Homo sapiens: one gene and its partners. The protein of the gene in region 4 interacts with the protein of the main gene of each other region in a pairwise test. Each region holds a gene or a part of one and is shown on either strand. Other genes may lie near its edges.

Region 1 (3,500 bases), on a different chromosome or scaffold from region 4:
TAAGATTGCTAATCTGGCTATAGAAGGACTAATGTTAGCCACCTCAGAGACATTCATTCATTTTAAGAAACATCATCTTTCACTGAATATAATATGACATTTTTTAGAAGGCACAGCATATATGTACCATAAAGAGCCATCTCAACTCTGACATAAACTTTGTTATCATACAGCATGTTTATTTTATGCGAATGAAAGAGCTCTTTTAGATGTATTTAGACACAAATATATCATATAACCCCCTTGCTCATTCAACAGAAACAAAATATAGGCAAAATAAATTCAGGAAAGTCTTCCTAAAACTTTTTCACACCCAAGGGTTTGACTCTTCTGAATCTCTTTTGTTAGAAACTTCTTATTTTGAAATAATTCCGAGTTTATAAAAAAGAAAGATAGCACAGAGAGTCAATGTTGCTGGTCTACATACCACACTTTGAATAGCAAGCCTGTAGCAGAATATCTAAAGTAAGTACCAGAATTGCTATTTACCACCTGTGTGATGTCTGACCTGCAGTGTCTTTATTTGGAATTTGGGATAACAATTCCCCTTACCTTCCAGGGTTGTTATGAGTAGCATATGAGGAAAATCCACAGAAGTCCTTAGCAAACTGTCAAGTACTTCACAAATACCCGTTGCAGATGCATTCCTTGCCCTCAAGGCATTTACAGTCTAGTTAATAATTCTTTACAGTTATTTGGTGCAGCATAGTCCGCATAGTTTACACAGTGCTTTCATATCTGTTATGTAATTTGACCTTCTCAATAATCCTGTGAAGGTATGAAATTGTACCTTCATTTATTATATACATTCTCCTGAAGTTTTGAGGGGGTTGTTTTTTCACAGTGGCCAAGCCTGCTTTGAACCTGTCGGGTTGGCCTTGGCCTTGTCAGTGCTCTTTACTGTGGGAACTTCATATCATATGAATGGGGCTTTGTCAACACAGGGTTCCTAGGTCTGTTTCACCTGAAATGAACCTTTCTTATTTTTCAGACACAAAACTTCTCTGCAACTCTGGCCTGCTTTTGGGACCAGAGGCCCCTCCCTGGATTCCCGGGACTGCTCCTCTCCCTGGTAACCCTCTCCTGGTAGGGACATTGATGGGGGTGAGGCTTACTGTTAGCTCCAGCTGTTTCTAATTAACTTTGACTGCTCTCCTCTGTAAAACAGTAAAGGCAATTCAACACATTAGCTTTTTCAAAAGGGCCATATCATTTTGCCATTAATCCAACTTGGGATAAAACAGAGGTCAACTATTTAACACAATCAATTTTAAGTAAAAAAAATAAATAAGTAAACGTTTCCCCCCCTCCCCCCATTATCATCCTGGCTTTTTTCTTCTGATCTCATTTTCTCTCAGAGGCCTGGTGGAGGAGACGGTCTTGATTGACCTGGAAAAGCCATATATGACAGGCTGGGGGAAGCTTCCCTTGAACATTTCTAGTCCTCCACTGCTATCCCCACATAAGAGTAAAAGACTCACTGGGAAATCTTTGAAATTACCTTAAATAAGTGGGCTTATTAATTCACATATACCTAAGTCTCCTTCCATTTCAAAGCTTTCTAATTGTGCCACTCCTAAATTTCAAATAAAGGTTACACTCATATTCCCTGGCTTAAAAATTTTTTTGACGATAATTCAGGGTTCCCCAGCTGCTAAAAACAAGATGTTATTTGTCTAACAATGAAAAACACAGATGAGGTCAGATTGTTTGTGGGGTAGGGGTGGCTTGAGGTAAAGGAAGCATCATAATCTCATCCACTGTAGGGAGGAATTTTGAATCAGTGAAGGCTAGCTGGCCTTGGACTCCATCCAAGGGTGTTCTGTCACTGAACTATCCAAGAGAGCCTTATAAGGCGGTTTCTTCTAGAAGGCCAGTCTACAGTGGACCCCGAGGGCAGGCTCTAGGGACAGGATGGAAATCGTATTTCAGGATGTTAACAAATGCCTGCTCAGCTTAATCATTCCATCTCAAAGCTGTATAGTTTAAGAGATTTAAAAATTATAAAATCCTCCCCCAGATGTGGCCCCTCCCCCTCAAGTTATTTCTCAGCTCTCCTAAAGAGAGTCTCCTGACTTCTGCCTGAACACGGTATCCTATTCAATAGTTTTTACTGGAAAGTTCTTCCTGCTGTGTCATCTAAATGTGCCTTGTGGCTATTTAATTCCAGGCCTTTTAATGCTGTCCTCCTGAAGAACTGTATTAAGAGAATAATTTTTCAGGCATCTTCCATTTAATAACTAATTCCCAAACGATGAAGAAACATTAACTTGTTCTTTAGATTACTTTCCTCTGAAAGAATCCTAAGTCCTCTAAGGCCCCACTTTGTCCTTCAGTTTTTCAAATCTTTCCTAAAATGCAGTGATTGAAACTGGACAAAATGATTATAAAGAACCAGTGATTCATTCAATATTCTAGAAATTTCTGTGCTCAAGAAGGGCAGCTGAGGCCAGAAAAATTTTAAAGCATTTCTACTGGACTGGAGCAGACTCTTAGGGAAGGTGACTTTTTCTGTTTCTGATCTGAAAGCAGAGAGAAGGAGTAATAGGGACTTTAGGGGGAAGAGACTCCTGAAAGGAGCAAGTGGTGGTAATTTGGAGGCAGGACTGGCTAATAAGGCAAGCGAGGTGAAGGCACTTTATGAGCAGTCACCGAATAAGAAAAAGCTCCACAAGGGCTTTTCACTCCCAAGTAGCAAGCAGCTTGCCATGGCAGGCTGGGAACCCAGATTTGACAATGCTTCTAAGATCAGAGAGGGAAGTCTTGGGAAGGAGTGTAGGCATCTGTTGTTGTGATTACAGTAACAGCTTCCTTATGGGAGTCTCTGACTGCAGTCTCACCCCCTTCCAATCCATTCTCCCAACAGCAGCCAACAAAGCTTTTCTAAAAGCACAAATCCAGCTCCATCACTCAGCGCTCCCATTGCTCTGTGACAGCGTCTCAGCTCCTTAAGGGGTCACAGGCCCTCCCCTATCACTGGGCTCTGTCACGCAGCCAGCTGCCTCCTTCTCCCTAGGCAGTCCCACCAAACCTCATGCGAGTCCTTCTGCTGGCTATGCTCTGGTTATCTCCTTTCTCTTAAAAAATTGTTTTAACTGATAACTGAAAATTGTATATATATGGTATACAACATGATGTTCTGATGCATGTAGACATTTTGGAATGGCTAAATCAGGCTATTTAACATATGCATTACCTCATACACTTTTTTGTGTGTGTGGTAACAACATTTAAAGTCTATGATCTTAGAACTTTTCTTTTTTTTTTTTCTTTTCTTTTTTTTTTTTTTTTGAGGCAGGGTCTTGCCCTGTTACCCAGGCTGGAGTGCAGTGGTATGATCATGGCTCACTGCAGATTTGACCTCCTGGGCTCAAGTAATCCTCCCGCCTCAGCCTACCAAGTAGCTGGGACTACAGGTGTGTGCCACCACACCCAGCTAATTTTTTTATTTTTTTTATAGAGACGAGGTCTCACTATGTTGCCCAGGCTGGCAATTTTCA
Region 2 (3,500 bases), on a different chromosome or scaffold from region 4:
CTTATTGACTTGACATTTACTGAATATTAACTACAGGCTATAGTAATGTACTAAAACTATGAATACTGCAGAACATAAAAAGCAGCCCTTACCACAAGCACTGTATATGAAATAACTAGGAAGCCCTTCAAATACTTTTTTTTTTTTTTTTTTGGTGATAGTCTAGCACTGTCGCCCAGGCTGGACAGTGGTGCGACCTCGGCTCACTGCAACCTCCACCTCCCAGGTTCAAGCAATTCTCCCTGCCTCAGCCTCTCAAGTAGCTGGGATTACAGGTGCCCATCACCATGCCGGGCTAATTTTTGTATTTTTTAGTAGAGACGCGGTTTCGCCACGTTGGCTAGGCTGGTCTTGAACTCCTGACCTCAGGTGATCTGCCCACCTCAGCCTCCCAAAGTGCTAGGATTACAGGCATGAGCCACCGTGCCTGGCCCCCTTCAAAGACATTTCATCAAGACCTGTAGTGATTATCCCTCTGTAAAGCTCCCTGCCTGCTTCTGACTCTCATGGTATGTACTACACTCTGAGATGTCTTATAGTCATTTGTGTATGTGTCTGATTTTTCCCAAAGATTCTTTTAATTTTTTAGAGACAGAGTCTTGCTCTGTGGCCCAGGCTGGACTGCAGTGGTATGGTCATAGCTCATTATAACCTCTAACTCCTGGGCTCAAGTGATCCTCCAGCCTCAGCAACCTGAGTAGCTGGCACTACAGGTGTACATTACCACGCCCAGCTAATTTTTTAAATTTTTTGTAGAGACAAGGTCTCACTATGTTGCCCAGGCTGATCTGGAACCCCTAGCATCAAGCAATCCTCTTGCCTTTGCCTCCCAAAGCTCTGAGATTACAGGTGTGAGCCACCGTGCCCAGACTCCCCAAAGGCTCTTGAAAACACAGACCACAACATACATCCAGCCCTCCACATCCACCGGTTCTGCATGCATGGATTCAACCAAGTATGGATCAGAAATATTTTAAAGACATAAAAATGAAAAATATCACAATTAAAAGTACCAGTAAAAAAAATAAAATATAACTATTTACAAAACATTTACAGTGCATTAGGTATTATAAGTAATCCAGAGATGATTTAAAGTATACAGGAGGATGTGCATTGGTTAAATTCAAATCCTATGTCATTTTATACATAAGGAACTTAAGCATCTGTGGATTTTGGTACCTGAGGTAAGTCCTCGGAACCACTGCCACATGGATACCAAGGGACAAGACAACTGTATTTACCTTTGGTTTTCTTTAAAGCCTAAACTCTGGAGTAAGTATTAAATAAATGCATTTGGAATGAACAGAGTGAGACTAACCAAATAGGTAAGTCATAGGGAAAGCTTTGGTAGGTTAGAATGAGTAAGGAAAACAGAACATATTAAATCTATTAAAAGACATCCATGTATAAGGTTATTCACTGCAGTACTATTTATAAAAGCAAGAAAGTAGAAATAACCTAAATGCCTATTAAGAATGGATGCCTAAACAAAGTGGGACCATTCATAATGAATACAATACAGTTGCCCAAAAAGAAAGAAAAGGGAAGAAAGAAGGAAAGGGAAAGGAAGGGAAGAGGGAAAGGAGAGGAAGGGGGACAGGAAGGAAAGGGAGGGAAGGAAGGAAGAAAAGCAAGAAAGAAAAAGACTAAAGAAGCTCCTAGTTATCTACTGATATAAAACACTACCCAAGGTAACAAAAAGATCAGCGTATGAAATAGCATGTATAGTAGTCCACCATTTATGTTTTTTTTTTTTTTTTTTTTTGAGACAAGAGTTTTGCTCTTCTTGCCCAGGCTGGAGTGCAATGGCATGATCTCGGCTCACCGCAACCTCCGCCTCCCGAGTTCAAGCGATTCTCCTGCCTCAGCCTCCCGAGTAGCTGGAATTACAGGCATGCAACCACCATGCCCGGCTAATTTTTTGTATTTTTAGTAGAGACGGAGTTTCTCTATGTTGGCCAGGCTGATCTCAAACTCCTGACCTTGGGTGATCTGCCTGCCTCAGCCTCCCAAAGTGCTGGGATTACAGACACGAGCCACCATGCCCAGCCTATGTGTTTGTTTGTTTTTTTTTAATGGGGGAAAAACATATTTACGGCTATATATGCATAAAGCAGCTCTAGAAGGATACATAAGGAACTAATAACACTGGGGGGCTGGAGAATAAGGGTGGAAGAAACTCTTCATATGTCTTTTTGTATCTTTAAAACCATGTGGATATGTTAAAATATATTGTACATATAAGAAAACTTTTTGAAAATCACTCAAAAGAACTGGACCAAAGACTAGATTTTTAAAAAATCACCAACTTCACCTACCTTTAATGGAATAGGGCTGTATCACACTAACTCCATAAAAACCTAGTTTCATAAATTTCATAAGCTTTACACTTAAACTACATAAAACTTTGCAAATTATCACTTAATGATCAGCATGGGACCACAAATCAATCCTCTAATATATGCTTTGCTTGTATTTAGTAATTTAAACATATTTTACAGCTGGGTGCAGTGGCTCACAAGGCAGGAGGATCCTTTCAGCCCAGGAGTTTCAGACCAGTGTGGGCAAGATGACAAGACCCCATCTCCACAAAAAATTGAGACCTTGTCTCAAAAAAAATTTTTTTAATTAAAAAATAAAATATTTTACCTCCTTTAGAGTCATTCTTTCCACTTCCATTTGATGGTGCTGACTCTTTATTATTGGTGGCCATATTGTCTACATCATTTTCTTCTAAAATCAAAGGATCTGGCTATTGAAAAAGAAAAATTATAAATTCTCAAACCAAGCCACTGTATAAGGTTTCATAGCAATATATGATTATACCTTTAGCTTAAGAGGGGGTAAATGTATCATCCATATCTCCTACCTCATCATCCTTTGTTGAAGACACAGCTGAGAGTAGTCGACTATTACAGAGCCGGCCATCTTGCACTGCGCTGATATCCAAGCTCATTTTGGGATTATAAGTATGTGGATAAAGAGATTCAGGAAGATGTTTACACTCTTGGGCACACTGCAATACAATGGTGTGCTTTAAGACAGGACTGACAAAATCTTAATGAATAGATGATGTTAAGTAGGATAAGGACAAGCAATACATTATACTGTAATATGGCAAAAAGTTCACAAAACTGGTTTGAAAAGTAGTTTACACTGAAAAATTTGCATCATACAAATGACAGATTGTCCTCATGTTTTAAATGTCATATCCACTGAAGTATAAAATCTGAAACCATTCCTGTGCTTTTGCAAAGGTATCAATTACCCTCCAGAGAATACCCAGGAAAAAAAAGAAACACAGATCTAAACTCTATTGATATGTTAAATTTTCCCCAAATAATTATAAACTTTCCATTCATATCACATTTTTAATTAGTACAAGGAAATGGAGAATTAGAAAGAGTATCCATTAAAGATTTGTTAAGTATTTAAGGACTAAAGATGTTAAGTTTTTGATGCCAAAGATCTGAAATGTGTACAGTTAACCAAGACTATTA
Region 3 (3,500 bases), on a different chromosome or scaffold from region 4:
AAAAAAAAAAAAAAAAAGAACTGAAAAATAAAAAAAATAGAGTTCCTGTTTCCCTGTACAGTGACCAAACTTGGTATACCAGACTTCAAATTTTCCCAATGATAAGAATAAAATGTTGGCCAGGCATGGTGGCTCACACCTGTAATGCCAGCACTTTGGGAGTCCAAGGCGGGTGGATCACCTGAGGTCGGGAGTTGGAAACCAGCCTGGCCAACATGGTGAAACCCGTCTCTACTAAAAATACAAAAAATTAGCCAGGTGTGGTGGTGCGCATCTGTAATCCCAGCTACTTGGGAGGCCACAGCGGGAGAATCGTTTGAACCTGGGAGGCAGAGGCTGCAATGAGCTGAGATCACGCCCCTGCACCCTGGCCTGGGTGAAACAGCAAGACTCCATCTCAAAAAAAACAGAATGAAATGTTATCTTTCTACTTTGAAAGTCTTTATTAGTGACAGTGAATATCTCTTCCTGTATCTATTAGCTATGTGAATTATAACCTTTGTGAAGTCATGTTCTTTATTCATTTTATTAACCCTGTTAGTAGTTCCTGATATAATTCTAGATACTGATTCTTTGGTCAATGTAACTCAGGATGGAGTTAAAGGTTAAAAAAAGATTACTAAAATTCACAACGTCAGCTAAAACATGACATTGTGAATTATTTTATTTTATTTATTTGTTTTGAGATGGAGTCTCGCTCTTGTCACCCAGGCTGGAGTGCAATAGTGCTCACTGCAACCTCTGCCTCCTGGGCTCAAGTGATTTTCCTGACTCGGCTTCCTGAGTAGCTAAGATTACAGGCGCATGTCACCACACTCGGCTAATTTTTGTATTTTTAGTTGAGACGGGGTTTCACCATATTGGCCAGGCTGATCTCCAATTCTTGACCTCAAGTGATCCACACACCTTGGCCTCCAAAAGTGCTGGGATTACTGGGATTACAGGTGTGAGCCACCGCCCCCAGCCTGCTAATTATTTTAATAGTAACCTTCTTTTTTTTTTTTTTTTTTTTTTTTGGAGACAAGGTCTTGCTCTGTGGCCCAGGCTGGAGTGCAGTGCTGCTCCATCATTCAGGGCTCAAGTGATCCTCCCATCTCAGCCTCCCAAGTAGCTAGGCCTGCAGGTATGCACAACCACACCCAGTTAATTTTTTTATTTAGTAAGTGATTTTTTAACCATTAACTCCATAAATTTTGACAGTGGTAATTTCCCCCAAAATGCTAAACATCATTTTTCCACTTATCTTTAATAAGCCATGTAAGAAAATTCACCTAAAAGGCACAAAAAATAAATGTAATCAATTTAATTACACAACAGATAAAGCAATTTCTGCCTCTTCTTTTAAACATATTTGACCCTTTCTAAAATGGATTATAATCATGTCATTTATCCTCCAAACAGGAAACTGAGAAATACTTACATGTTCCATTTATATTAAGACCACAAGTCCTGTGCACATATTTCTAAGTATAATAGCAAATAATATTTTATTTACCTTTTCAACTTGGAGTATCTCCTAAAGTTTCTCAATATCCTTCATTTCTCCCAATATTACACAATGTCCTAAACTTTAAAAATAAATTCTGCCATACAAGTGCCTAAAACATTAAAATTTAAATATTTTCACCAAAGAAGTAAAATATAATGGATATTAACTGTGATATAAAGAAAGGAAAATCATTAGATGCTAGTTTTAGCATCTAATTTCACCAGTCCACAGGTACAAATGCTCAGAAAATGATAAACAGAGATAATTCTTACTATCACTATGATTTATGAGCTTACATTAGCCATACTCTACTTGTCAAACTCTAACATAGTTACCTCTGCTCTGAACATTTCAGGATTCTAGTTAAAGATACATAGTTTCCTTCCACTGTCCCTTTGCTTACAGTTGGAACAGATTTTCTGCAAGCCACATATAAGGCACATGCTAACCAATGAAGATCATTTCCCTGTAAAAGAAAAGAAAATTGATTTTTAGTTAAAAAGCTACATATAAATATTTCAATATTTTTAAAAGTATGTTTAAATTGAAAGTGTTGTTTATATTTTTGTGGGAAACTTAGTTTCAATGATGACCCTATCTCATACGCTCTTTTTTTTTTTTTTTTTTTTTTTTTTTTTGAGATGGAATCTTGCTCTGTCACCCAGGCTGGAGTGCAGTGGCGCAATCTTGGCTCACTGCAACCTCCACCTCCCAGGTTCAAGCACTCCTCCTACCTCAGCCTCCCAAGTAGCTGGGACTACAGAAGTGCGCCACCATACCTGGCTAATTTTTGTATTTTTTGTAGAGACAGGGTTTTGTCATGTTGCCCAGGCTGGTCTTGAACTCCTGGCCTCAAGTGATCCATCCGCCTTGGCCTTCCAAAGTGCTGGGATTACAGGTGTGAGCCACTGTACCCAGCCCCGTAGGCTCTTCTTATAATGTGACATTAACATTATTCCACTGAGAGGTAGAGAGGGTTCCCTCACCTTGGACCTGGGCAAGGGTCTGCGTTCCCTCACACTGATTAACTGTCTCTATCAATAATTGCAGAGGTAGAAGTGAAACTATGTAATTCTAAAAGATTATACAAGGCAGTATAGATTCCACTTGGTTCTCTCTCTTAGGACATGTGCCTTCGGAGTCCTGAACCAACATGTAAGAATTTAGCTACCCTGGATCACCATGCTGGTGAGACCACATGGAACAAACATACAGAGATGCCCAACGAGCTCCAGCTGTGCCAGTACCTAGTTGCTCAAGTCTTCCAGGTGAGGTACCAGTCATTTTGACGCAGAAACATGACATCCACACTGTCCCCAGCCTGAATTCCTTACTCACAGAACCTGTGACCAAAACAAATTGCTTTCTGCCCCTAAGTTTTAAGGCAATTTGCTATATAGCCATAGTAATGCAAACAATATTATTGTTTATTTTTATTTATTTTTTATTTTTTTTGAGATGGAGTCTCACTGTGTCACCCAGGCTGGAGTACAGTGGCTCCATCTTGGCTCACTCCAAGCTCTGCCTCCCAGGTTCACACCATTCTCCTGCCTCAGCCTCCTGAGTAGCTGGGACTACAGGTGCCCACCACCACGCTCAGCTAATTTTTTGTATTTTTAGTAGAGACTGGGTTTCAATGTGTTAGCCAGGATGGTCTTGATCTCCTGACCTCGTGACTCGCCCACCTAGACCTCCCAAAGTGCTGGGATTACAGGCGTGAGCCCCTGCGCCTGGCCTATTGTTTATATTTTTAATCTTGCTCAAAATCTAGAAAAGTGATAGAAATACAAAATTAAGCTTGAATGGATATTCAGCCACTAATTTTATACCTAATCAAAACACATACATGAATACATAAAATTTATTTGTATAACCAAATGAGACTATTGTGGATCCACTACCAGATATCATTCAAAAATAATAATTTTTAAGGCATTGTTTGTAAAAGATCGTCACAATTCTTTTTACTCAAGAAGTGATACAACTTTCCTCTCCCTATAAAAGCGAGGAA
Region 4 (3,500 bases):
CATCTGCCTACAACTGCATGAGACCCTGAAACAGAACTGACCAGCCAAGCCTTTCCTGAATTCCTGAGCCACAGGAACTATGAAGATAAGAAAATGGTATTGTTTGAATCCTCTGAGTTATTCAAGTGATTCATTCATTATGTAGCAATACTATCCATAGCACTTTATTAGCCAAAATTATCTCTATAATTTCCCCTCATTAGTCCAAGTGCTAATTTCTCTTTCACATGATACTTGCATCAAATAAATTTGAGAAACTATTGTCTTCTGAATAGATTTAAAGTGGTCATACTTTAGATTTTCTCTTTTCTACAAAAATGAGAAAAACATGATCAGAGGCTAGTATCAGGAACAAAATAATCTTAAAAGCAAAGTATCCTCTTAAGAAGAGTTATTTAGTGTCATACAAGCCATAAAATGGCAATAAACTACTGTGAAGGTTTTTTCTTTTAATAGGTATTGGCTTCTCTACCCAGGTAACCATCTGCTTCATCATATGGTTTGCTATTTGTCATTGAAGAACAAATAAGGCAAAGACTACTAAAGTTTTCTTTGATTTACTGCATTTAAGGCAGCAGTAGATAAGTAGATTCAAAAGAAGCCAGGGCAAGACTATTTTATTTTTTGCTCTGAGCAGGTAGACTATAGAAAATTCAGCAGAAGATAAGGAATGCACACCCAGCCTCAATGTATTCGGCTTCTAACAAATGATCACTGGGGAATGTCTCTGCTTTTAGCACTGCTTCCCCATGTGGCAGGCCCTCGCTCTTCAATACATAAGGATGATAAATGACAACTGTTCATAGTCTAGCTGTTCTCATGTCATGTGCCTCTACAGTTAGGAATGTTGCTAAGGTACTGCTAACCAAAATCCTCCTATTGTTCTCATCTCTTCCGGAAAATCAAGACTTTGGGTAAAGAATTAATAGTTTCTCACTACAAAGGGCTGTAGACCACTAATTTGGCCAAATTGCCTTATCAGTAGAGGTGGAATACAGCAGATTAACTCAGCATATACACTATCATTCTGAATGTTAACCTGTAAAACTATACTAAGACTTCTCGGTAGATTTCTCCTTTCTTTCCTTATCAAATTTCTTTAGAAAACGTTAATTCTAACACAGGACTCAAGACTTACTGTTATACCACTTATAAAAAATTGTCTACACCAGGGATCAGCAAACTTTTTCTTAAAGGGTCAGAAAATAACTATTTTAGGCTTGTGGGGCTATAAGGTCTCTGCATCAACTACTCAACTCTGCAGCTGTATGGAACAAACAGCGATGGGCAATACATAAAGAAATGAATAAGGCTGTGCTCTGGTAGAACTTTATTTACAAAACTGGTAGCTGGCTGTCATTTGCAAATCCCTGGAAGCCATATGAATCTTTTCTGAAATGAAATTAGTTTGGTTAAAGACTTTTTTTCTGACGCACTGAAACTGAGCTTTCCTAAGAGGAACATAAAGTTAACAGAGCAGGAAAAAACCTGCTTTATGGTGAAGAGGTCACTTGAGCTAATCAGTGCAATGGTACAACTACAAACTTCACACAACGTTATTAAAAAAAATAACAAAACAAAAACAGATCTTACTTGAACTTTTTTCTCCCTTCTGCTCTTGCTTCTTCATTTTTAAGAGAACGGTTTCACTAACCAATGTACAGTCCATGTCCACTGTCTCTCCTCCTAATTTTGACTGACTGCCATCCTAAATAAATATTTTAAAAATCAAAAATTTTAACAATTATTCCTTTATGGTCTTATATTTAATTTTTACAAAACATTTTGGTAAAATATACATAACATACATTTTACAACTTTTAAGCATTAAGCTATATTTGCTTTTATACTTTACGAACAGGTAAGGATTTAGGTTTTACTGCTTATAAAACATTTTAGCTTCAATATAATCAAGCCTAGGAAAAGAAGGACTGCTGCCAAGGAAAGGGAGAATTATTTACCACTAAACACCCCTGAACTTTTCCTGCCTTTATTTTCCAATTTGCCTTATAGTAATGAACATCAATGTACACTAAGAACACTTTCAAAAATTAAATTAAATTTCTTGATAGGCATATATTACTCAGCGTATGTTAAATACTTTGTTATTAATATGCTACCAAGTGAAAGAGAACTTCTGAAACTACACAGAAGCTAAATACAAGACAAAAAACTATTTCCACTATGAATTTTAACTTTTAAAAATAGTCAACTTGGAAAATGAATTTTATGGTACATTATTTTAAAGGTAATGAAGACATGATGAATTATTTTAATGAATGATAAAATTATATAAGATATGCAGCATTTTGCATTATTTTAATTTATGAGACAGGGTCTTGCTCTGGTTGCCTAGGCTGGATGTGCAGTGGTGTGATCATACCTCACTGCAGCCTCGAATTCCTGGGTTCAAGGTATCCTCCCAACCTCAGCCTCCCAAGTAGCTAGGACTACAGGTATGCACTGCCATGCCCAGCTAACTTTAAAATTTCCTATAGAGACAGGGCCTTGCTATATTGCCCAGGCTGGTCTCGAATTCCTGGCTTCAAGTGATTCTCTCTCTTCGACCTCCCAGAGTGTTGGGATTACAGGCATGAGCCACTGCGCCTGCCCACTGCATTCTTTTAAAAACTATATTAATATTTTTCAGTAAAGGCCTTTAAAGTCAGAAAGTATTACCCTTTAAAAAATACCATAAAGTTAGAAGAATAAGCATTTTTATTTCTTAATTTTCTGCATAAATACATGTAGGTTTTAAGACGTATCTGATTATCTTAAGGTGATACAGTGAGTCACGAGAGGAGGTTGACTAACAACTCATTGGAATAAAAGTCAAATGAGTTTTGGTTTTACTTTTTAACTTACCTTTGTATCTATTACAGTAACATCCATTTTATACTGAGAAAGGTCTGCTCCCGGATCTATACTCCACTGGATATTTTCAAAGGATACATCTTAGGTAAAGGGAAAGAGCATGCAATTAAAAAACTGATTTCAAAAATTCTCATCACTTTAAAATATTATGGGACCTAAAGAATAGAAAATTTTTGCAAATCATATGTCTGGTAAAGGACTTATATCTAAGATATATAAAGAACTCTCACAGCTCCATAATAAAAAGACAAATATCCCAATTAAAGATGGGCAAAGGATCTAAATAGACAGTTCTCCAAAGAAGATATACAAATTGCCAATAAACATGAAAGGATGCTCAACATCATCAGCAGTCAAGGAAATGCAAACCAAAACCACGAGATGGCAAAAATCAAAAAGCTATAACAAGTGCTAGTGAGGAGGTGGAGATACTGGGACCCTCACATACTGCTGGTGGGAATGTGAAATGGTGTAGCTGCTTTGGAAAACAGGCAGTCTTTCAAAAGGTAAAATGTAGAATTGGCATATGGCCCAACAATTCCACTCCTAGGTATAATCCAAGAAAAATGAAAACATACATCCACACAAAAACCTGTATACAAATGTTCATAGCAGCATTGTTCATA
Region 5 (3,500 bases), on a different chromosome or scaffold from region 4:
CTGTCATAAAAAACTCAATGAAAAAGTCATTCATGGCTTCCTTCCTTGTAAAAATAAGATAGAATAAATTTAAGAGATGAATAGAAAACAAAAATAGGCTGGGCGCGGTAGCCCACGCCTGTAATCCTAGCACTTTGGGAGGCCGAGGCGGGCAGATCACTTGAGGTCAGGAGTTCGAGACCAGCCTGGCAAGCATGGTGAAATCCTCCCCTCTACTAAAAATACAAAAATTAGCCAGGCGTGGTAGCAGGCGCCTGTAATCCTAGCTACTTGGGAGGCTGAGGCAGGAGAATTGCTTGAGCCCAGGAGGTGGAGGTTGCAGTGAGCCGAGATCACGCCACTGCATTCCAACCTGAGCGACAGAGCAAGTGAGACCCTGTCTCAAAAAAAGAAAAAACGAAGACAGAAATGAAAAATCATCCATTCTTGCTCTATTTATTCCTCCATTCCTGTTTTGCTTTCCTTTTCATTCACTTTTATGTAAATGTTTATTCGATTATTATTTTTGTTCTTCTTTATTGTTTTTTTTTTTTAGAGACAGGGTGGTGTCACTCTGTTTCCCAGGCTGGAATGCAGTGGTACTTATCATAGTTCACTGAACCTCGAACTCATGGGCTAAAATGATCCTTCTGTCTCAGCCTCCCATGTAGCTAGGACTACAGGTATGTGCCACCACTGTCACTTGGTTCCAATGGTTCTTGATTTTTTTTTTTTTTTTTTTTTTTTTTGAGACAAGATCTTACTCTGTCACCCAGGCTGGAGTGCAGTGGTGGGATTTTGGCTCACTTTAGCCTTGACCTCCCTGGGCTCAGATGATTGTCTCACCTCAGCCTCCTGAGTAGCTGGAACTACAGGTGTGCGCCACCACACCTGGCTAATTTTTTTGTATTTTTAGTAGAGACGGGGTTTTGCGGTGTGGTCCGGGCTGGTTTCAAACTCTTGGACTCAAGCAATCCATTCGCCTCAGTCCCACAAAGTGCTGAGATTACAGGCGTGAGCAACCGTGCCTGGCCTATGTTGTTGTTTTATAGTCAATATTTGTTTAGATTTACCAAAGTGTTTACCTTCCTGTATTCTTCTTCTTTTCTTTTTTTTTTTTTTTTGTAGATGGGGTCTTGCTCTTTTGCCCAGGCTGGAATGCAGTTGTGCGATCACAGCTAACTGCAGCCTTAACCTCCCAGGCCCAAGTAATCCTCCCTCCTGAGTAGCTGGGATTACAGGTGTGAGCCACCACATGCCATCTCTTTTTCACAGAGACAGGATTTTGCTGTGTTGCCCAGGCTGGTCCCAAACTCCTAGGCTCAAGTGATCCTCCTGCCTTGGCCTCCCAAAATGTGCTGGGGTTACAGGTGTGTGTGAGCTACCATGCTGGGCCCTTTTTTTTTTTTTTTTTTTTTTTTTAAGAGATGAGGTCTTGCTTTGTTGTGCAGTTGTGTGAGCATGGCTCACTGCAGCCTCAAACTCCTGGGCTCAAGTGATCCTCCTGCCTCAGCCTCCTGAGTAACTGGGACTACAGGCATGTGCCACTGCACCTGGATAATTTTTTTTTTTTTTTTTTTTGTAGAAATGGGGTCTTGTTGTGTTGCCCTGGCTGGTCTTCAACTCCTGGCCTCAAGTGATCCTCTCACTTGGTCCTCCTACAAGCATAAGCCACTGCATCCAGCTGTATTTACCTTTTTTTTTGTTTTTTTTTTGAGACAGAGTCTCCAAGGCTGGAGTACATTAGTGCAATCTTGACTCACTGCAACCTTTGCCTCCCGGGTTCAAGTGATTCTCCTGCCTCAGCCTCCTGAGTAGCTGGGAGTACAGGTGTGTGCCACAATGCCCGTCTAATTTTTTCTATTTTTAGTAGAGACAGGGTTTCACTGTGTTAGCCAGGGTGGTCTCGATCTCCTGACCTTGTATTTACCTTTTTCTTTGCTTACATTTTTCTTATATCTCTGACCTTCTTTTGGGGATCATTTTCCTTAAAATCGTTCTTTAACAGTTTAGGGCCCATTGATAATAAACTTCATCATTTTGAAAATGTCTGTATTTTGATTTTAATCTTAAAGAGATTTTCTCTGGGTGTAAAGTTCTGGTTTGGCAGTTTATCATTTTCAGGATAGTATTCCATTGCCTTCTGGCTTCCGTTATTGCTGTTGAAGATAACTGTCAGTCTATACCTTGATTCTTTGTAAGTAATGTAATTTTTTCATATCTCTTCTTAAGATCTTCTCTTTGAGTTTATGGTTCTGAAGGTTCACTATGATGAGTCTAGGTGTTTTATTTCTAGCTTGGGATTCAGAAAAATATCTGGATAATAGGATTGATGTTTTATCAATTTAAAATTTCTCTTTAAAGATTGTCTTTATCCTTTCTTCTTTCTTGCTGGAATTTAATATTTAACATATCTTAGTCTCTCTAGATTCATTATATACGATTTCTTCTGGTCTCTTTTACAATTCCCTTTTTCTTTATTTGGCTTTGTCTAATCTGTTTAACCTGCCCCTGAGTCTTTTTTTAGACTTTTTTATTGTGAAATATAACACATCAAGAAAAGTGCCTGGAACAAAAATAAACACTGAATGATTTATGTAAAGAGAACAGCTCAGCTGTGTAACTAGAAACTAGGTCAAGAAACGTAAGATTGCTAGGACTCCAGGAGCTCCTGTTGTGTCCACTTGAAATCATTGTCCCCTCACTGCCCTCTGAGGGTTACCATTATCCTGTCTCAAGAAAGTCTATTTACTTTCTTGTTTTCTTTATACTTTTACTGCTTAGGCATGCCTCCCTCATCACTATAGTTTAATTTTACCTGTTTTTTAAATTTAGTATAAATGAATCATCGAGTATGTGCTCTTTTTTGTCTTGCTTCTTTTTCCAAACATTGTGAGATTTACCTGTGTTGGGTGTGACTATGATTTGTTGCCATATAGTGTTCCATGGTATAAATATACCATGACTTATTTTTCCATTCTATTATTGATGGACATTTATATATATATATAAAATACAGTATAGTCCGGGCGTGGTGGCTAACACCTGTAATCTCAGCACTTTGGGAGGCCAAGGTGGGTGGATCACCTGAACCTGAGGTCAGGAGTTCAAGACCAGCCTGGCCAACATGGTGAAACCCCGTCTCTACTAAAAATACAAAAATTAGCCAGGTGTGGTGATGCATACAGGTATAATCCCAGTTACTTGGGAGGCTGAGGCAGAAGAATTGCTGGAACCCAGGAGGCAGAGGTTGCAGTGAGCTGAGAGTGTGCCACTGCACTCCAGCCTGGGTGACACAGCGAGACTCCATCTCAAAAATATATGTGTGTGTGTGTGTGTGTGTGTGTGTGTGTGTGTATAATACAATATATCATTTACATTTGGGGGCTCTTGCAAAGAATGGTGCAATTGAACATTTACACTCATTATTGGGCGTATGTGTCTATGAGTGGAGTTCTGGGTCAAGGAGTTTGTGTGCACATGCACGCACAATTTTAACTTTTATAGATGATGCCAAACTG
Region 6 (3,500 bases), on a different chromosome or scaffold from region 4:
AACAGGTAAACCTGGTTTTTCTGCAGTTCTCCTCCCTAACACCTCTAAATTTATGCCATCTTATACTATAAAAGATGGTATGAAATCCTGCTCATATTTCTTAGGTGTGCTTTATACTTGGTCCCTACCTAACACTGCTATTGCCTGTATTCAGTGCTTCACAATCTAGCAACATTTTCCATCTCATCTCTACATCCTTTCATTCTCACCATGCATGCTGGTGAACTGCAACAATCATTTTTTTGTATAGTACTTTGCTAAGTCAGAGAAAGAAATGGTATAAAACCAGCAACAAAGTGAAGCTCTAACTCGGGGAAAAATTAAGCTTTTACATCAGAAGGAGTGGAGAGAAGGTCTACCATTTTATTTCTAGCATATTTTTTCTTTTTTGCTACCAAGTGTAACTACAAACAGCTTTACCTCTATTCTGAATAGGTATCTCCAAATATTTATGTTGCTCATTCATTGTTCTCAACTCTGCCCTGCAGATTCACTTCATTAGAATCCAAATCACAAAAATCTTTAAGCATTTATATGTCTTGGCACTCCTTGAAGAAGCTTGAAATACCTCATCAGCAGTGACTGGTTAGTTTGCAATTAAAAAGTTCAACTTTTATTCTTAAAATGGTTATTCTATGTAGCTCCCCATATTAGTAAATTAAAGTGCACATAATGTCATGTAATTAACACTAAGAAACAGAACATACATTTAAAATTACCTCATAAACTTGAGCAAGGGAAAAGGGCAAATATAAGCATCAAAATATGGCAGCATAATTTTAATGGTTAAAAGTTTTCAAATATTTGTCAAACCCCCACCTCCACCACCGCACTAAGAAAATGCATTACAGAAGACAAAAAAGTCTATTTTTTTCCCCGAGATTTTTGAAGCTTGCTAAATTCCTATTTGCAGATAAATGTTGTTTTTTTTGTGATCCTTACAACAGACATTAATGAAGTTCCTATTGTAAATCCATAAAGAATTACCAAGTGAAGTGTGCACTTTTTGTTTCAATGCAATAACTCAGTGCTGTGTGATTGCCTGGGTTAATGATGAAAAAGTCAAACATACTATCAGAGCTGATGGAAAAATCTATCACCAATCTGAAATTAAAATTCATCTGTGGTCAATAAGATTTAATATCCATGCAAGTGGCGCTGTAAAGAGTAAATGAATCAATGTCATCAATACATAATCAGTATGAAATATGATGTGAATAAAATTATGCACACGAGTCATACATTTCACTCTTTTCTGGGCCGGTGTGGAATGAACAGTCTCTTAACTGAAGGTTGACAGTAATTGTTACAAATTAGGCACAGCAGTTATCAAAATGCACTCACTTGCATAGCTATAGGACTTATTAAGGAGATTAAAATAGATCTAAAACTATCCAGTACTGGGGGTGCTGGACAACTGTTGATCACCAATTTTCCCTCTGGAATATCTTCTAATACTACATGATTTGTATACTTGTATAATTTCCTAATTTTTAATTCTGGTACAAGGATTTTCAAGTTGTGGATCAAGAATCAAGATACATAATTTCTAATGGCACTATTAATGGCACTAAGCGGGTTAGCAAGAACAAGAACTTGGTTTTAAAAGCCATAACTTATTCAAATGTTATGGTACCGCCAATGAACAAAAATGCCCTCTTATGAAGTTACAGAATGTTTTGTAAAATTACTCTTCTAAAAAGTAAATGAATTGTAAATTGGGTTTGGAAGGCAGGTGTCCAGATTGCTATTCCTAACGCAGAAATCATTCTTTCATAACAAAGATCTTTATTCTCTTTTCCTACCATAAATGTTCTAATTTTTCTTCCACAATAACCTATCACATCATGTTTCTGAATTTCAAAATTGTCAAATGGAATAAATAACCAGTTATATGGAAGCTTTACATTTTGTTTGCTTTTGCATGTGATAATCTTATGTTCAACGTGAGTGAAGCTACAGATATAACAAAGTCAGGATTTTTTTTTTAACTAGAAAGGATTCACAATTTAATCAGCTATCCTACTTCTGAACACTCTATGTACAACTAGTAATCTACATTTCTTTAAAAGGGCATGCAAAAATACAACCACCCAAGAAAACTCTCTTGCTAGGTTAAGAGGTTGAACCTTCCAACTTGCTCTAATAAAGCTTATTAGTAATTGCTGGGTATTCACCTTCTGGTCTGGCAGTAGTGGATTGCTCTGAAGTGAATTCAAATGGCCATTGATGAGAGCTGTAGGTCTATCATGTTCACAAAATAAACTGCCATTGATGTAGTGAAACCGATCTCCCGGGACCAGGCGATTCCGGCAGGTAGAGCATGTAAAACACTGAAAGGGAAAAACAAACCCACTGAAAACAAGGTAAAAATTAAGTCTTTTTTTGGTCACAAGTTTATAACCTGTTATTAAGCAGGTATCTGTCAAGTACAGAGACACTTAGGGTTTAGCGTTTTTTCTTCCTTTGACAGATCTCCAGAAAACAGTAAGCCAAATTGCTATCAACTGGACCAGGCTAAATGGGGACAAATCCAAATACATGTGTACTTCTGTCTGTGGCATAGGGGAAGCGTGGTCTGTGCATGTGGATGTGTAACCATCACTGCCATGCTACAATTTCAATCATTCCTTCAAGTGTCTGCAGCTTGAGAAAACAGTTCATACCAAGGAGAAATGCTTTGCCCCCATGTAGGTAGGAAAGGTATGATTTTTTTTTTAAAAAAAAAAGAGAGATGCAAATACTACCTTAAGATGATACACATTGCCTTGCGCCCTCATGACGAGTTCACTCGCAGGAATCGACTGTCCGCAAGCGCTGCAAGCACCGCTATTTCCAAATAACCTGAAACAAAGAATAACGGTTGACACCAGTGAATAATCCTAAACCAAAGAAAAAGAAAGAAAAACACCCCCAGACTCTGGGCATCCCTTTGGAATGCATTTGACAGGCTGAATTCTTAGGCTCAAGCCTCAGATTTTCTGAGTGATTTACATAATCTGGGAAAAATCCTTTTTGTGGGACAACAAACTTCTGCCTACCGCAGAGGATGCCCCAGATTTAATCAAAATATTGACTTACACCTCTAGCAAATACAATTCTGTTCTACACACATTTTATCAGATTACTAGGTTCATCATAAAAAAAAAAAAGATACAATTCATGACTGGAGTTTAAATGCATTGTGTCCTTGAAATTATATGAAGAACTCTTTTGTACTTTAATCATATCTTCAGATATGAGTCATCAAAAGGGTTAAGAGGATTTGATTGTATATCTAAGAAGACATCATGCTCAGTGTATTGAAACTCCCGTAAACCTCCATCAGTGCAGACTTTCCATTAGAAACTCTCTGCTATCCAGGTTGATATATAATGTGTATGGGTTAACCTTTTCAATCATGGTGTCAACACTTAAGATTTGCCTCTGCTCATCTCTTTCATCCTAACCTTCTCTCTCTCTTGATAATGAAATGCTTGCTCCAACTTCCCTCTATCTGC
Region 7 (3,500 bases), on a different chromosome or scaffold from region 4:
GCTATAGGTCTTGGTCCTCAAGGTATTTACTCTATACTGTAGACAAAAAGATAAAATATATACACACAACAAACTGTAACAATGCAATGTGAATAAAGTAACAGAGCAAACCAACGTAATATAGCAGAGGAGACCCCACAATACAACCACATCTTGGGCTGTATTCCTAACCCTGCTGTTAACTGACTTTCGGCCTTGAATAAACTATTTTACCTTCTAGGCAAATCCTGTCCTGTAAAATAAAGAAGCAGTGTATTTAAATAAAGGGCTAATGCAGGGGACCCACTAAAGTGCATGAGTTCAGTAGGTTCCAACTTTTTCACATATAAACCCACTTTTTAAATGTTAAATAAATTTTCTTAGATCTTCATGTCACCATGATTGTCTTTTTAGCACGTTAACAGATAAAGCATGCACTATATAAATACTACCACGAATTCCACAAACCCTTTAAAAGAATCTGTACTTTATCAGCCAGGCGCGGTGGCTCAAGTCTGTAATCCCAGCACTTTGGGAGGCCGAGGCGGGCAGATCACAAGGTCAGGAGGTAGAGACCATCCTGGCTAACACGGTGAAACTCCGTCTTTACTAAAAATACAAAAAATTAGCCAGGTGTTGTGGCAGGCGCCTGTAGTCCTAGCTACTTGGGAAGCTGAGGCAGGAGAATGACTTGAACCCGGGAGGCGGAGCCTGCAGTGAGCCGAGATCATGCCACTGCACTCCAGCCTGGGCAACAGAGCAAGACTCCGTCTCAAAAAAAAAAAAAAAAAAAAAAAGGAATCTGTACTTTATCACCTGTTAAATGAAAATTAGAAACATTCACAAAACATCATTTGTTCCACTTCAAACACTTAGTATGTGCATAGATTTTTTTTTTCAAGCCAGTTGGAATAAGTTTACAGTCCACAGGACACTGGCTCTGCATTCTCTCAAGTCTTTCCCAGTCTTAATACTATCATCTTATGTTCATTTGAAAGATTTTCAGAACCAGGGTGAAAAGGAAATCAGTAAGAAAGGAGTGAAAAAAGAAAACGATGGATTCAAGAGAAAATTCGAAGGTAAGAACTCAGCAAGAAGGTGGCTATAGGGAGGGAAGGACAGGAAGAAACAAAAGCAACCATGTTAGGTGCCATTAGCAGCAGTATAAGTCCGGAGGAAAAGAACCAGGATGATGGGAAATGATGACTTCATTGAGCATCTACTATGTTCCTGGCATGGTGTTAAATGGTTTAAAAATGAAAACATACACGATTTTAAAAATCAAAACAGTACAAAAAGCTATACAACAAAAAATGTCCCTCTCATCCTGGATTCTCAGGTGCCTAGACTCCCTCTCCAGAAGCAACAATCACTAAAAATTTCATCGGTATCCTTTCAGAAATATTTGCATTTGCCTTCATATTTAGTTATCACAACAACCTCTGAGACAGGTGGGATTATTTTATAAATTAAGAATCTGAGGCTTAAAGACGCTGACAGGGCCAAAGTCAAAGAGCCATGAAGGGACAGAACTAGGACTAGAACATGGACCCAAACACTCATGCACATACTAACTCTACACTCAGAAAGCTATGAAAACTCTGGTAGCTGGGTGCAGTGGCTCGCGCCTGTAATCCCAGAACTTTGAGAGGCCGAGAAGGGCGGATCGCTTGAGGCCAGGAATTCAACACTAGGCTGGGCAAGATGGGGAAACCCTGTCACTACAAAAAATACAAAATATTAGCCGGGCATAGTGGCATGTACCTGTTGTCCCAGCTACTCAGAAGTCTAAGGTGAAAGGATCACCTGACCCCAGGAGGTTGAGGCTGCAGTGAGCCATGATTGCACCACTTTACTCCAGCCTGGGTGACAGAGTGAGACCTTGTCTCAAAAACAAAACAAAACAAAAAACACTCTGGCAGAGATGTTCAAAGTGTTTGTGATAATTAAAAAATAGAACCCAAATAACCACTAGTCAAGGACTGGATGTACAAATCATATCACATGTACACTGTGAAATACTATGCAGCCATTAAAACTAAGGTTAAAAAACATAAGGTAAACCCAGATACACCGCTCTAAGACAGCTTGTTGAAGTAAAAAAGCAATTGCAAGAAATGGGGAGTTGGTATTTACTGGTCACAGAGTTTCAGTTTGGGAAGATGAAAAAGTTCTTGGAAGGAAGGGTAGTGATGGTTGCACAGCAACGTCAATGTACATAATGCCACAGAACTGTACACTCAAAAATGGTTAAAATAGTAAATTTTGTTTTGCATGTTTTCCCGTAACTTTTTTAATACTAAAAAAAGCAATTGCAGAATAGTATGACTATGATTCCATTTTTGTAGAAAGGGAAAGTATGTGTAAACATTACTTGTAAATGCATGTTGTCTGTTATCTTGCTTTACCTTGCCTGCTACTCAGACATCCTGAAAGCCCTGGATTCCTGGTGTGCTGATGCTGAGTCCCGTGCCTCCCACTGCCAAGCACATACTCCCAGCAGCTGAACTACTGCCTTCACCTTTCTTCCTACCTCTCACAGAATGCACTCTTCAGCACTTGCTTTATCTGCAGCTGTCCCGCCCCACTGTTAAATGTCACTGAAGACTCATCAAGCTCCAAAACGTGCTCCAACGTGAAAAAAGATGCAGGAAAATGACTCCCTTACTCATTCCTGCAGTAAGCTCCAGGGTGGAAATGTGTGATATGATCAAATAAAAGAGATGAGATTATATCAGAAAGAGTGAAAAGGAAACCTCTGTTGCTGAAGAATGCACAGTATATGGCAACAGGTAGTGCAGCTCCTGCTTCTCAAGTGTCTTAAAATTAAAGTTTTTGGAAGACAATGTGGCAACAGTCCAGCATATAATGTAGATGACATCCCTGTGGGTGGAAAACCACAGCTTAAAGTGTAGTTACGAGAACTATAAAACTAACAAAATGGTTTGAGATGTTTTTCCTTCTATTTAAGTGCAAACCTAGGTAAGAACATGACCTATACTGAGGTTTATTTATTTAAATGATTATCCAAAGAGCAAACACAACATTATTGAAAATAGAGGCTTTCAGAGTAAAGCTCGGCTCTCCTGTTACTGATCTGCTGCAGCTATGGAAGTTTCTCTGACCCAGTGGAGGGGCTCCAAGGTCCCCCTCTCTAGGAGGAAAGGAAAGCCTACTTGTTGTACTCACATTTAGCAAAGGAAAGAACTGCCCAGGAGACAGGTCAAGGGGCTACAGCAAAGGGAAAAGGGTGGGAATGATCAAATAAAATCAAGACAGCACAATCCTGATGGACAGTTTTCTCTAAGCCTGCAAAAACCGGAACCACCAGAACTGAAATGATCTTTTGTACCACCAAACTTTCCTTAGCTTTCTTAAAAATCAACAGTTCGATTTTCTCACCATACAAACAGGCACAGAGCACTGAAAAGTGTGAATACACTTAGGCCCATGGCATTGTCCCTCTTCATAATGGCACTGGCCATTTTCTTATCAGGGAAAATCCTGAAAGGCAGAAAGTT

The links.
Region 1: the proteins of RBBP8 (region 4) and IGFBP7 interact in a two-hybrid assay, tested with the Homo sapiens proteins (one large-scale study listed by BioGRID and IntAct).
Region 2: the proteins of RBBP8 (region 4) and TOPBP1 interact in a two-hybrid assay, tested with the Homo sapiens proteins (one large-scale study listed by BioGRID).
Region 3: the proteins of RBBP8 (region 4) and RBL2 interact in binary tests that used the Homo sapiens proteins (3 or more experiments, as listed by UniProt).
Region 5: the proteins of RBBP8 (region 4) and EXD2 interact in binary tests that used the Homo sapiens proteins (3 or more experiments, as listed by UniProt).
Region 6: the proteins of RBBP8 (region 4) and LMO4 interact in binary tests that used the Homo sapiens proteins (3 or more experiments, as listed by UniProt).
Region 7: the proteins of RBBP8 (region 4) and LIMS1 interact in a two-hybrid assay, tested with the Homo sapiens proteins (2 studies listed by BioGRID and IntAct).

The regions. Positions count from the first base shown.
Region 1 is NC_000004.12:57,100,386-57,103,885, forward strand, and holds part of IGFBP7 (insulin-like growth factor-binding protein 7 isoform 1 precursor), read right to left. Parts: intron 1-3,500. UniProt on the Homo sapiens protein: Binds IGF1 and IGF2 with a relatively low affinity. Stimulates prostacyclin (PGI2) production. Stimulates cell adhesion. Acts as a ligand for CD93 to play a role in angiogenesis.
Region 2 is NC_000003.12:133,620,442-133,623,941, forward strand, and holds part of TOPBP1 (DNA topoisomerase 2-binding protein 1), read right to left. Parts: intron 3,017-3,500; coding exon 2,870-3,016; intron 2,753-2,869; coding exon 2,650-2,752; intron 1-2,649. UniProt on the Homo sapiens protein: Scaffold protein that acts as a key protein-protein adapter in DNA replication and DNA repair. Composed of multiple BRCT domains, which specifically recognize and bind phosphorylated proteins, bringing proteins together into functional combinations.
Region 3 is NC_000016.10:53,437,471-53,440,970, reverse strand, and holds part of RBL2 (retinoblastoma-like protein 2), read right to left. Parts: intron 1,956-3,500; coding exon 1,825-1,955; intron 1-1,824. UniProt on the Homo sapiens protein: Key regulator of entry into cell division. Directly involved in heterochromatin formation by maintaining overall chromatin structure and, in particular, that of constitutive heterochromatin by stabilizing histone methylation.
Region 4 is NC_000018.10:22,995,828-22,999,327, reverse strand, and holds part of RBBP8 (DNA endonuclease RBBP8), read right to left. Parts: intron 2,955-3,500; coding exon 2,866-2,954; intron 1,709-2,865; coding exon 1,594-1,708; intron 1-1,593. UniProt on the Homo sapiens protein: Endonuclease that cooperates with the MRE11-RAD50-NBN (MRN) complex in DNA-end resection, the first step of double-strand break (DSB) repair through the homologous recombination (HR) pathway.
Region 5 is NC_000014.9:69,211,998-69,215,497, forward strand, and holds part of EXD2 (exonuclease 3'-5' domain-containing protein 2), read left to right. Parts: intron 1-2,131; exon of another isoform or gene 2,132-2,176; intron 2,177-3,500. UniProt on the Homo sapiens protein: Exonuclease that has both 3'-5' exoribonuclease and exodeoxyribonuclease activities, depending on the divalent metal cation used as cofactor.
Region 6 is NC_000001.11:87,338,880-87,342,379, reverse strand, and holds part of LMO4 (LIM domain transcription factor LMO4), read right to left. Parts: intron 2,845-3,500; coding exon 2,748-2,844; intron 2,334-2,747; coding exon 2,178-2,333; intron 1-2,177. UniProt on the Homo sapiens protein: Transcription cofactor. Plays a role in establishing motor neuron identity, in concert with MNX1, acting, at least in part, to disrupt LDB1-LHX3 complexes thereby negatively modulating interneuron genes in motor neurons.
Region 7 is NC_000002.12:108,537,470-108,540,969, reverse strand, and holds part of LIMS1 (LIM and senescent cell antigen-like-containing domain protein 1), read right to left. Parts: intron 1-3,500. UniProt on the Homo sapiens protein: Within the IPP (ILK-PINCH-PARVIN) complex, binds to F-actin, promoting F-actin bundling, a process required to generate force for actin cytoskeleton reorganization and subsequent dynamic cell adhesion events such as cell spreading and migration.